Linked DNA regions of Homo sapiens: region 1 is linked to region 2. The links come from fine-mapping of genetic effects on gene expression. A gene starts in region 2. The other region holds a variant in brackets. All regions are shown on one strand. Distances are between the middles of the regions.

Region 1 (5,383 bases), 93 kb before region 2:
GAACTAGAAAAAGGGAGAGGAAAGTATCATGTGTATATGAGTAGGAAGATGAAGGAAACAGGGAAGGGGGAGGTAGTTATAGTTAAGCAGATCGGATCTTAAGCAACTTTGCCAATGATATTCTTACCCCAAGTGTATGCCAGCAAGATATGGTTCTACTGCTGGTGACCTCATAGAAGCAGAGTCATCACTGGAGAAAGACATAGCTCTCATCCTGATGGGCATCTCCTGCCCCTGAGGCCTCAGTTAGCTGCACTTGCCTTCTGCATCTCCTGGGGATTTCACTCCATCAGTTAGCATCTTGTTTACTGCCTTCCCTAAAGAAGTGATATGTATTAATATTAGTCTGTTATAACATCGCTATAAAGATACCAAAGACTGGGTAATTTATAGTGAAAAGAGGTTTAATTCACTGAAAGTTCTACATGGCCAGGGGGCCTTCAAAATTTACAATAATGGTGGAAGGCAAAGGGTAAGCAAGCTACCTCCTTCACAAGGCAGCAGGAGAGACAGCAAGAAAGCAGGGGAAATGCCAGACACTTATCAAACAACCAGATATTGTGAGAACTCCCTCACTATCACAAGAACAGCCTGGGAGAAACCACCCCATGATTCAATCACCTCCCAACAGGTCCCTCCCTTGATATGTGGGGATTATAATTTGAGATGAGATTTGGGTGGGGACACAGAGCCAAACCATATCATGATGCCTATCCATTTCTTTGAATTTTGTTTGATTCCTGACTGACTTATTCTTACCTCACAATGCCCCAGGATATATGTGAGCCCAAGAAAATGGGATTAAAGTCAGAGAGACTTAGTAGCGTGGCCTAATGAAAAATCCTTGGGGCTAACTGGAGCCAAACTGATTTGATACCTTCCCAGCATCTCTCCATCTTTTACATGAGCTGGGACCATGGTTAATGGCTCTTTTTATATAATAATTTAAAAATGTGTAAATATAAGGGCCACCTAGCACATAAAGAAGGAATATAAAGGTCAAGGGTCTTGTTGTTTATCAACATGGTCTTTGAGAATTGCTTATACTCAATTTTGATGAGCCTGGCTCTTTATGGCTCCTTCTTCCGTGATTTGGAAAAGTGCAAGCCTGGGCAGCTGTCAACTCATTGATACTCTCAGCAGCACAGTTCCGACTGAACTCTTAGTTTAGTCATGGTGATATCTAGTGGTTGTACCACTAGGGTGGTACAGCCCTTGGTACTGTCCTGGTTTGGGTTGCTTGGACATTTGGAGAAATAAAACAGATGGGAGAATTATGATTTTGAACAAATAATTTACCATGTTGCAAATTTCTTTATCAGTGAAAGTCCAGTAATTTTCTACATTGTTTAACTAAAAGTTGTGGGTTTTTAAATGTAGGTGTTCAACTAAGCTAGCACTTGAGTGAATTAAAAAAAAAATTGGACTAAATACTGTGGAGGGAGAAGTGCAAAAGGATCAGATAACATGTTGTAGTGGAGCCTTCAGGCTGTCTGCCCAGCAACCTTTTTATCCATAGATGTGGGCCTGGGTAACCTGTGTCACCTGGTGGCCTCCTTCCTGGCCATATTGGTGGTGGGAGTTGGGGACTAAGAAACTACACATCATTCTCTGCATGTGGCCAAACTTACAACATGGGAGTAGTGAAACGTCTGTGAGAAGTGAGAACTAGTGTATTAGCCCATTTTCATGCTGCTAATAAAGATACCCAAGATTGGATAATTTATAAAGAAAAAGAGGTTTCATGGACTCACAGTTCCACATGGCTGGGGAGGCCTCAAAATCATGGTGGAAGCTAAGGAGGAGCAAGTCATGTCTTACATGGATGGCAGCAGGCAAACAGAGCTTGCACAGGGAAACTCCCCCTTATAAAACCATCAGATCTTGTAAGAGGTATTCACTATCATGAGAACAGCATGGAAAACACCTGCCCCCATGATTCAATTACCTCCCATGGGGTCCCTCCCACAACACGTGGGAATTCAAGATGATATTTGGGTGGGGACACAGCCAAACCATATCACTCTGCCCCTTGCCCCTCCTAAATCTCATGTCCTTACATGTCAAAACCAATCATGCCTTCCCAACAGTCCCCCAAAGTCTTAACTCATTTCAGCACTAACTCTTTTAAAAGTCTACAGTCCAAAGTCTCACCTGAGACAAGGCAAGTCCCTTCTGCCTATGAGCCTGTAAAATTGAGAGCAAGTTACTTGCTTGCTAGATACAATGGAGATACAGGCATTGGGTAAATACAGCCATTCCAAATGGGAGAAATTGGGTAAAACGAAGGAGCTACAGGCCCCATGCAAGTCCAAAATCCAGCAGGGCAGTTAAATCTTAAAGCTCCAAAATAATCTGCTTTGACTCCTTATCTCACATCCAGGTTATGCTGATGCAAGAAATGGGTTCCCATGGTCTTGGGCAGCTCTGCCAGTGTGGCTTTGCAGGGTACAGCCTCCTTTCTGGCTGCTTTCATGGGCTGGCAACGAGTGCCTGTGACTTTTTCAGGTGCACAGTGCAAGCTGTCAGTGGATCTTCCATTCTGGGGTCTGGAAGATAGAGACCCTTTTCTCACAGCTCCACTAG[G/C]CAGCACCCTAGTGGGGACTCTGTGTGGGGGCTTCTACCTCACATTTGCCTTCCACACTACCCTAGCAGAGGTTCTCCGTGAGGTTTGTCCCTGAAGCAAAACTTCTTCCTGGACATCCAGGCATTTCCATACATCCTCTGAAATCTAGGTGGAGGTTCCCAAATCCCAATTCTTGACTTCTGTGCCCTCACAGGCTCAACACCACGTGAAAGCTGCCAAGGCTTGGAGCTTGCACCCTCTGAAGCCACAACCTGAGCTCTAGCTTGGCCCCTTGTAGTCATGGCTGGAGTGGCTGGGACACAGGGCGCTAAGTCCTTAGACTGCACACAGCAGAGGGACACTGGGCCCAGCCAATGAAACCATTTTTCCCTCCTAGGCTTCCAGGCCTGTGATGGGAGGGGCTACCTTGAAGACTACTGACATTCGCTGGAGACATTTTCCCCATTGTCTTGGCAATGATTCACATTCAGCTCCTCGTTACTTATGCAAACTTCTGCAGCCAGCTTAAATTTCTCCTCAGAAAATGGAATTTTCTTCCCTATCACCTTGTCAGGCTGCAAATTTCTGAACTTTTATGCTCTGATTTCTTTATAAAACTGAATGCCTTTAACAGCACCCAAGTCACCTCTTGAATGCTTTGCTGCTTAGAAATTTCTTCCACCAGATTCCCTAAATCATCTCTCTCAAGTTCAAAGTTCCACAAATCTCTAGGGTGGGGCAAAATGCTGCCAGCCACTTTGCTAAAACATAACAAGAGTCACCTTTGCTACAGTTCCCAACAAGTTCCTCATCTCCATTTGAGACCACCTTAGCCTGGACTTTATTGTCCATATTGCTATCTGCATTTTGGGCAAAGCCATTCAACAAGTCTCTAGGGCATTCCAAACTTTCCCACATTGTTCTGGCTTCTTTTGAGCCCTCCAAACTGTTCCAACCTCTGTCTGTTACCCAGTTCCAAAGTTGCTTCCCTGTTTTCGGGTATCTTTTCAGCAGCATCCCACTCTATTGGTTCCAATTTACTGTATTAGTCTGTATTCCTGCTGCTGCTAAAGACATACCTGAGACTGGGAAGAAAAAGAGGTGATATGGTTTGGGTATGTCCCCACCCAAATCTCATCTTGAATTCCCACGTGTTGTAGGAGGAACTCAGTGGGAGGTAATTGAATCATGGGGGCATGTGCTATTTTTCTGATAGCAAATAAGTCTCATAATATCTGAGTGCTGTTCTTGTGATAGCAAATAAGTATCATAATATCTGATGGTATTATAAGGAGGAATTTCCTGCACAAGCTCTCTCTTTTTGTCTGCTGTCATCCATGTAGGATTTGACTTGCTCCTCCTTGGCTTCCACCATGATTGTGAGGCCTCCCCAGGCAAGTAGAACTGTAAGTCCCACTAAACTTCTTTTTTTTCTGTAAATTGTCCAGTCTCAGGTATATGTCTTTTATCATCAGCATGAAAATAGACTAATACAAGAGGTTTAACAAACTCATAGTTCCACATGGCTGGGGAGGCCTCATAATCATGGTGGAAGCAAAAGCTACTACTTACATGGCAGTGGCAAGAGAGAATGAGAGCCAATAAGTTTCACAAGATCTACTGGAGAAGACCAGGTCTGCCCGATATGAGGGCTTTCCCTCTGCCTGGCACAGTGCCTGGCATAGAATAGGTCTTCAGTGAATATCTGGATGGATAGTTGAGTGAACAGCAACATGCAGAAAGTATCAGAGGAAAGGCATAGAGTCCTGCCCACATTCCAGTCCCTGGTTCCAGTTCCTTCCCACCTTTCAGCTCCAGTGCCAACTTGAAGAGTTACATATAACTCAGGCCATCCTAAGTTGGTTTCTGCTACTTGCAAATTGTAGAGCAATCACTGATAATAATGGTCTCTAGCTTGGGGGAACTTGGAGTATACTTTTAGACAACCTGAAAAAAAATTATGTATTTGTGTAACTGATTCCTTCCTCTTTACATGTGTGTATTTATATATGAATGTGTGTGTAGGTACATGTATATAATTATATGATATTATTTTTGGATATATACATATGTATATAAAAATGCATATATAAAAATGAATTGGGCAATTTAATCAATGTTCCTGAGCTCCCTTTTTACCTCTAAAATGAAAGGATGAGATTCAATGATCTAAAATTTTAAAAGTACACGCTTTCCAGGAATTATGTAATTGCTTTGTTAGAAAGTCACCAGAAGGTATACTGTTGCTAGAAAAGAATGCCCAGGGAAGGCACTTTGGGAATTCACGTACATGCTATGTTTTGTCATTGCTGGAAATAGTTTGGCAGCGCCTCCAGGAAGTACATTCACAGGTATTCACATATTCTCCATGGAGGCAGATGTCCAGTCTAATGACTGTGATGACTGAGGGTGCTGGTAATGACAGTTCAGACAGAAAAGCAAAATTTAGTTAAGAAACAGCAGTAAGAGTTTTCACTGTGAACTGGCCATGAAGACAGACCCACAAGGAGTATCATTCACTGTCACTATGGATAGAACATTGGTGAGGATGACATACCAAACCTTTCTGAAGCATCAGAAAGGTAGATAACCTGCAGTTGCAGTCCCCAAACTTGGCTGCCCTCTTTTTGGCTGGGACCTCAGTACTCTTCTCACATCAAGCATGGGCATGTACCAGGTGTTCAATTAGTACTGAGTGGTCAGTTAAGCCAAACTGATTATAACAGTCATCAGTGTTTGAATCAGGTGCTTTATGTATATTTTCTTACTTCACACAGTTAACAATACTCTTTTTAGTTTCTTTGTAAAAATTAGGAA
Region 2 (5,383 bases):
CCTGCTACTCATGAATCCTCCCTTCCTATTTGCCCAGTCTCTCTAAGTCTAACCACTTAGTAGGTTCTTCTATTTCTCCAGTCTACCTCCCACTAAACATACCTAATGCTACTGCCTTGGTTCAGGTTAGGTTATTCAATCCAAAACATTTACTGACTGCCTACTAGTACCCAGGCACTGGGCTAGCTACTATGAATAGAAAAATGAGTAAGACATGGTTCCTGTCCCCCCGGAAAACCTACATTTTTCAGATGAGACTGTAATCTGAAGACTAACTGAAATATAATGTAGTAAATGTAAGAAAAGAGCTTATAAACTCCTTTGGGAATGTGGGATAGCAACATTTTGACAGCATTGAAAACTGAATGTGGTGTGAGGGGAGGATGGATGACTAAAATCAAGGGAAAGATTATTGGGGAGGATTTCAGAGCTGACTCTTGAATTGCAAACCCCTCATTCTCCCTCCACACACGTACACGCTCTTCCTATTTCCTTTTCATGATTCTTGAGGAAGGTACAGGAGTTAGGAAGAGGAACTGCAACAACACAGATAACAAGTCATCAATGGTACATTGGGATGGCAGTGGTGATGAAGATGACTAAAAGCCACTCCATACTCTAGAGCAGGGTTTGGCAAACCACACTCTGTGGGCCATATCTGGCTGGCTGGCTGTACAGCCAGTGAACTAAGAATGGTTTTTATATTTTCCAGCTGTCAAGGAAAAAAAAGAAATATTTCATAACATGAAAATTACATGAAAGTCAAATTTCAGTGTTCATAAATAAAGTTTTATTGAAACACAGCCATGCTCATTTAAGTATTGTCTATGGCTGTTTTGAACAAGCCAATTAGATGTGATAGACCATACGGTCCATAAAGTCTAAAATGTGTACTATCTGGCCCTTTGTTGAGAAAGTTTGCTATTCTCTGCTCTGGAGGCTTAAGTGAGACAGAGAGTATTGGATGATGAGGTTGGAGACGAAGGTGGGGTGAAAAGCCTCATATTAAGTACTTGGACTTGAACCTCAAGTCTAAGTAATGAGGAGGCCCATTTTTACATTTTACATTAAAGTGTTTTTATTAAAATGTTCATTTGGGTGGCAGTGCAAATAATACATTTAAGGGAATAAAAAAATGTAAGGATATAGGGGGATAGCTAGAACAGAGGATAATGTAAAACTTCAGGCAGAAAAACAAGACATTTCAGCATTCCCTAACCTCCTACATCGCCAAATTGTCCTCCATCCACTTATCACCATCTCACAGGATACACATTTCATTTACCTACTTGTTGTCTGACTCCTCCTACTCAAATGTAAGCTCCAAGATTGGAAGAGTTTTTCTTGGTTTTATTATTTCAGTGCTTAGAACAGTGCTAGACACATAGGAGGCATTCAGTAAATATTTGTTGAGTCAACTGAATTAGGGTTTTTCCCCAGCATTAATTAGCCTGTAAAATCTGAGAAGGCAGAAACTGTTCAGTTTTGCTCACTGCTATCTCCAGCTTCTAATGGACATACAGTAACCCTTCATAAATATTTGCTGAACGAGTGATTCAGTGAACAAATGAATAGAGAAGACCAACATCCGAAAAGTTATTTTATTTTCAAGCCTCATGTCTTTAACTGTTTTATATCAGCCTTTCTTAAGTTGACCGTCATTAATATTTGCTGAATGAATGAGTCAGTGATAAACAGAGAAGACCATCACCCTAAAATAACGACCCCTCCACTTTTAAGTCTTACGTCTTTAATGGGTTTCATATAATCTTTCTGCGCTCTTTTTACTGTCCAGTGTGGGAGCTGACACTAGTTTGCCTTAAGTCCTTAAAAATCGCACCCGGAGGCGCAGTGTCATAGGTAACCCAAGCTTTCCTAGTAAACATGATACAAAAGTAAACACAACCAACAGCATGGGGACCAGCAATTCAGAAACACCGAGCGGGCGGGCTGCCCAGACCTGGGCTTCCCCAGCAGGGCCCGCGGAGACCGGCCGTGAGCAGAGGCTGCAGGCCCACCCCGCAACCCGAGCAGCCGGGGCACCGCAGGGAAACAGCGGCCTAGCGAAGCCACCCGAGCTCCCTCCGCGCCCCCGGGCCAAAAGGCCGCAAAGGAACTCCGCCCGCCCGCCCGCTCACCCGCTCACCCGCTCACCCGCTCACCTTCAATTCCTGCGAGTCCATGGCTGCCCCGAGGCCGGGCCGCGGGGCTCTGGGGATTGTCTCGCCGCAGCCTAAAGGAAGACGCAGAATTCAGCTCCCCTAGCCTCCCGGAGCGCTCTAGCGCCCCGGGCCCCAGCGGGAGGGGCGGGGTCGCGCCGCGATTGGCTGTCGGAGGGAGAGGCGGGCCTGTGTGGCGGGGATCGTGCTGTAATGGAGCAGGGGCGGCGGGGACCCGGAGGTGAGGGCTGCGAGGGCCGCCCGGGAGGGTCCGGGCTGGGAAAAGGGCCTCCGCCGGAGAGTGCAGCTGGAAAAGGAGGTCACACTGGGAAACGGCTGTCTGAGGACAGTGGGTGGGCGGGCCGAGGAAATGGAATTCAGGAATAAAGGAAACGGAGTATGAAGAAGGGGAAGTCTGTTTCCTGTCACTGGTTGTAAAGGAAGACACCATTTTCTGCACGTTTGTCTGGAGGCGGATTCCCGCAGTGCGGCTCTCAGCAAGGCTCTGCCGGCGCGGGAAAAAGCGGTCAACTTTCACGTGGGCAAGTTGTTTTACGGCCACAAGGTGGCGCAGAAAAAAAAAATCACACGTTCTTAACAGAAATACGGTGCGCTTGGGCCCGTCTTTGCAGGCGTTGCTGCAATCTTTGTTAGAATGTGTGTTCAATTAGCCCTTTTTTACCAGCCCCGATAATAAGAGGGACAAATAAATTAAACTTCCAGAAAATTAGTGTCTTGTTTTCAATGATACTACTGATTTTAAACTGAGAATAAAATGAATCCCAATGCAAATTTTTATGTTTGCACCCCATTAGGCAACTCAATCAGTCACACATAGATTTCTTAAGTCCAGGAAATTAAATGGAAATATAATAGACTAAGATTTTCTATTTCTGCTTAAATAAATATTTAAAATAGTGCATAAGGTCTGAGATTTAAGTGATCTTTGCAGAATCTTTCACGTGGATTCCAAATTTTGATCCTAGTGTTAATTATCTTACTTTAGTTGACATGATACGTAGTTGCCTTTTCCAGATTTTAAGTTTCTTAAGGAGTTTATAAACATTGACTTTTTCCCCATGCCAATAGGTTATGTAAGGACAGTCTTGAGAAAAACGGTAGCTACCATCCTAGGCTTTAAGGTGAAGCAATATTTCTCACCGGTTTCTCTTTAAAGGAATTCACCACGTATTTTCACGAGCAACTTTTTTTTCTTTCCAATATTTATAGTCCAGCTAAATGTCTGTGGTGATGAACAACTGGTGATATCTCTTTGATTTTCAAAGCTGCGGATTAATCCGCACTTGGTATACAGCAAAGAATACCACAGGACCAGGGTGCTCAATGAAGTGTATAATCTTGAACTGTAAACCTTTGGTTATAAGAGAAAAGTTCATCTGTAAGGAAATATCTCAGGATCATGGTTAACAGAACAGATGATCAACCTACCTTTTGGAGATCTTGAAAGTCATATTAATTTAGCCTCGTATTCTCTTCACTGAATTCTGTTCTAAGGTTGAATTATTTAGCACAAAACACCAAGCCTGATGTTTCATAAATGTTTGTTGGATTAAAAGTACTCTGAGATTTGCTTTGACACTCACGGTGACTTGGTGTGCCCTGTGCCCTTACTAGATCTCATGTAAGAAATTTATTTTGGATCTCAGGCCAGGAAAAACTCTTGTCTTTCCTGAAAAATCGATGTGTTCCTTAGCAGTAACATTTTTATCGGCTCACTTTTACTAGCTACAAACTTTTGAGTCTGATATCCATGACCCTTCACCTCATCGTCTTTTCAAGCCTTATCTTCTACCTCCCCTTCAAGGAGCCTTTATTCCGCTCAGTGGGACAAATATTCCTTCTTCTGGTAATGCTTTCCCCTACTTTGTTTTGAGCTCTTTCTTCACCTGAGAAAATCTCCTTCTTCTGAGTTCATTTCAAATTTCATGAAGTCTTTAAGGATCACCATAACTGGATGGGTATAAAAATATCACAGTGTAGTGGCAAGAATACCCTCTTCTGCATCTGAGGTGGAGCTCCTATTACGCTAGCTACTTTTGTGACTTGGGGAAGTAATTTCCCTAAGCCTCATTTTCCTTATTTACTAAAGAAACTAAATGCCTTACAGACATATTAAAACTTCCTGACACATAATAGGCATTGTATAACCAATAGTTTCCATTAAACACGTAGTGCTCTATAGCAGTGGTCCCCAATCATTTTGGCACCAGGGACCAGTTTGGTGGAAGACAATTCACAGAAGATAAATTTTCCATGGACAGGGGTAGGGGAGATGGTTTCGGGTTGAAACTATTCCATCTCAGATCATCAGATTCTTATCTAAGGAGCATACAGCCTAGATCCTTCACATGCACAGTTTATAATGGGGTTTGCATTCGTATGAGAATCTAATGCCTCGCTGATCTGACAAGGAGGTGGAGCTTGGGGTAACGCTCCCTTTCCTGCCCCGCAGCTCACCTCCTGCTGTGTACCCCGTCCTGCTGTATACCCCATCCTGCTGTGTAGCACTGATTTGCAGTCCTCAGATTGGGGACCCCTGCTCTATAAGACTTATTACACTTGCATAGTCCTTGTATTACTAGTTATAGTGCATTTTTGTTTAATGTTCTCTACCAGATGATGAGCACTATAAAGCTAGATAATATAATGTAGCAGTTAACATCTTCGTCTCCAGAAATACGTCATTTTCGTTCAGACCTTAATGTGTCCGGAATTGGTGGGTTCTTGGTCTTGCTGACTTCAAGAATAAAGCCGCGGACCCTCGCGGTGAGTGTTACAGTTCATAAACGCACGCAGACCCAAAGAGTGAGCAGCAACAAGATTTATTGCAAACAGCAAAAGAACAAACCTTCCACAGAGTGGAAGAGGACCCCAGTAGAGTGCCCCTGCTAGCTCAGGTGGCCTGCATTTATTCCCTTATCCGGCCCCACCCACATCCTACTGATTGGTCTGCTTTACAGAGAGCTAATTGGGCTGTTTTACAGAGAGCTGATTGGTCCGTTTTGACAGGATGCTGATTGGTGTGTTTACAAACCTTGAGCTAGACACAGAGTGCTGACTGGTAAATTTACAATCCTTTAGCTAGACACAAAAGTTCTTCAAGTCCCCACCAGATTAGCTAGACACAGAGCACTGATTGGTACCTTTACAAACCTTGAGCAAGACACAGGGTGCTGACTGGTGCGTTTACAAACCTTCAGCTA

Direction of the effects. Alleles are on the strand shown, and positions count from the first base shown. SD is a standard deviation of normalised expression in the study named.
With allele G in place of C in region 1, the expression in thyroid of the gene that starts at base 2,254 in region 2 is higher (small effect, 0.22 SD a copy in GTEx).

What was found. PIP is the estimated chance that this variant, and not a neighbour inherited with it, causes the effect.
Region 1: its variant is fine-mapped to the expression of TTC21B in thyroid (GTEx, PIP 0.92).

The regions. Positions count from the first base shown.
Region 1 is chr2:165,858,088-165,863,470 of GRCh38, forward strand. It overlaps LOC100506124 (a long non-coding RNA gene), which reads right to left. Exons shown (of 4, transcript NR_045375.2): 2 at 4,857-4,978; 3 at 128-317. Among named protein-coding and RNA genes, the nearest start is that of GALNT3, 67 kb to the left of the region's middle. The variant G/C (reference allele first, on the strand shown) is at 2,587.
Region 2 is chr2:165,951,523-165,956,905 of GRCh38, forward strand. It overlaps TTC21B (tetratricopeptide repeat domain 21B), which reads right to left and starts at 2,254. Exons shown (of 29, transcript NM_024753.5): 1 at 2,163-2,254. The coding sequence starts at 2,183. RefSeq lists a silencer at 2,105-2,504 and an enhancer at 2,269-3,018.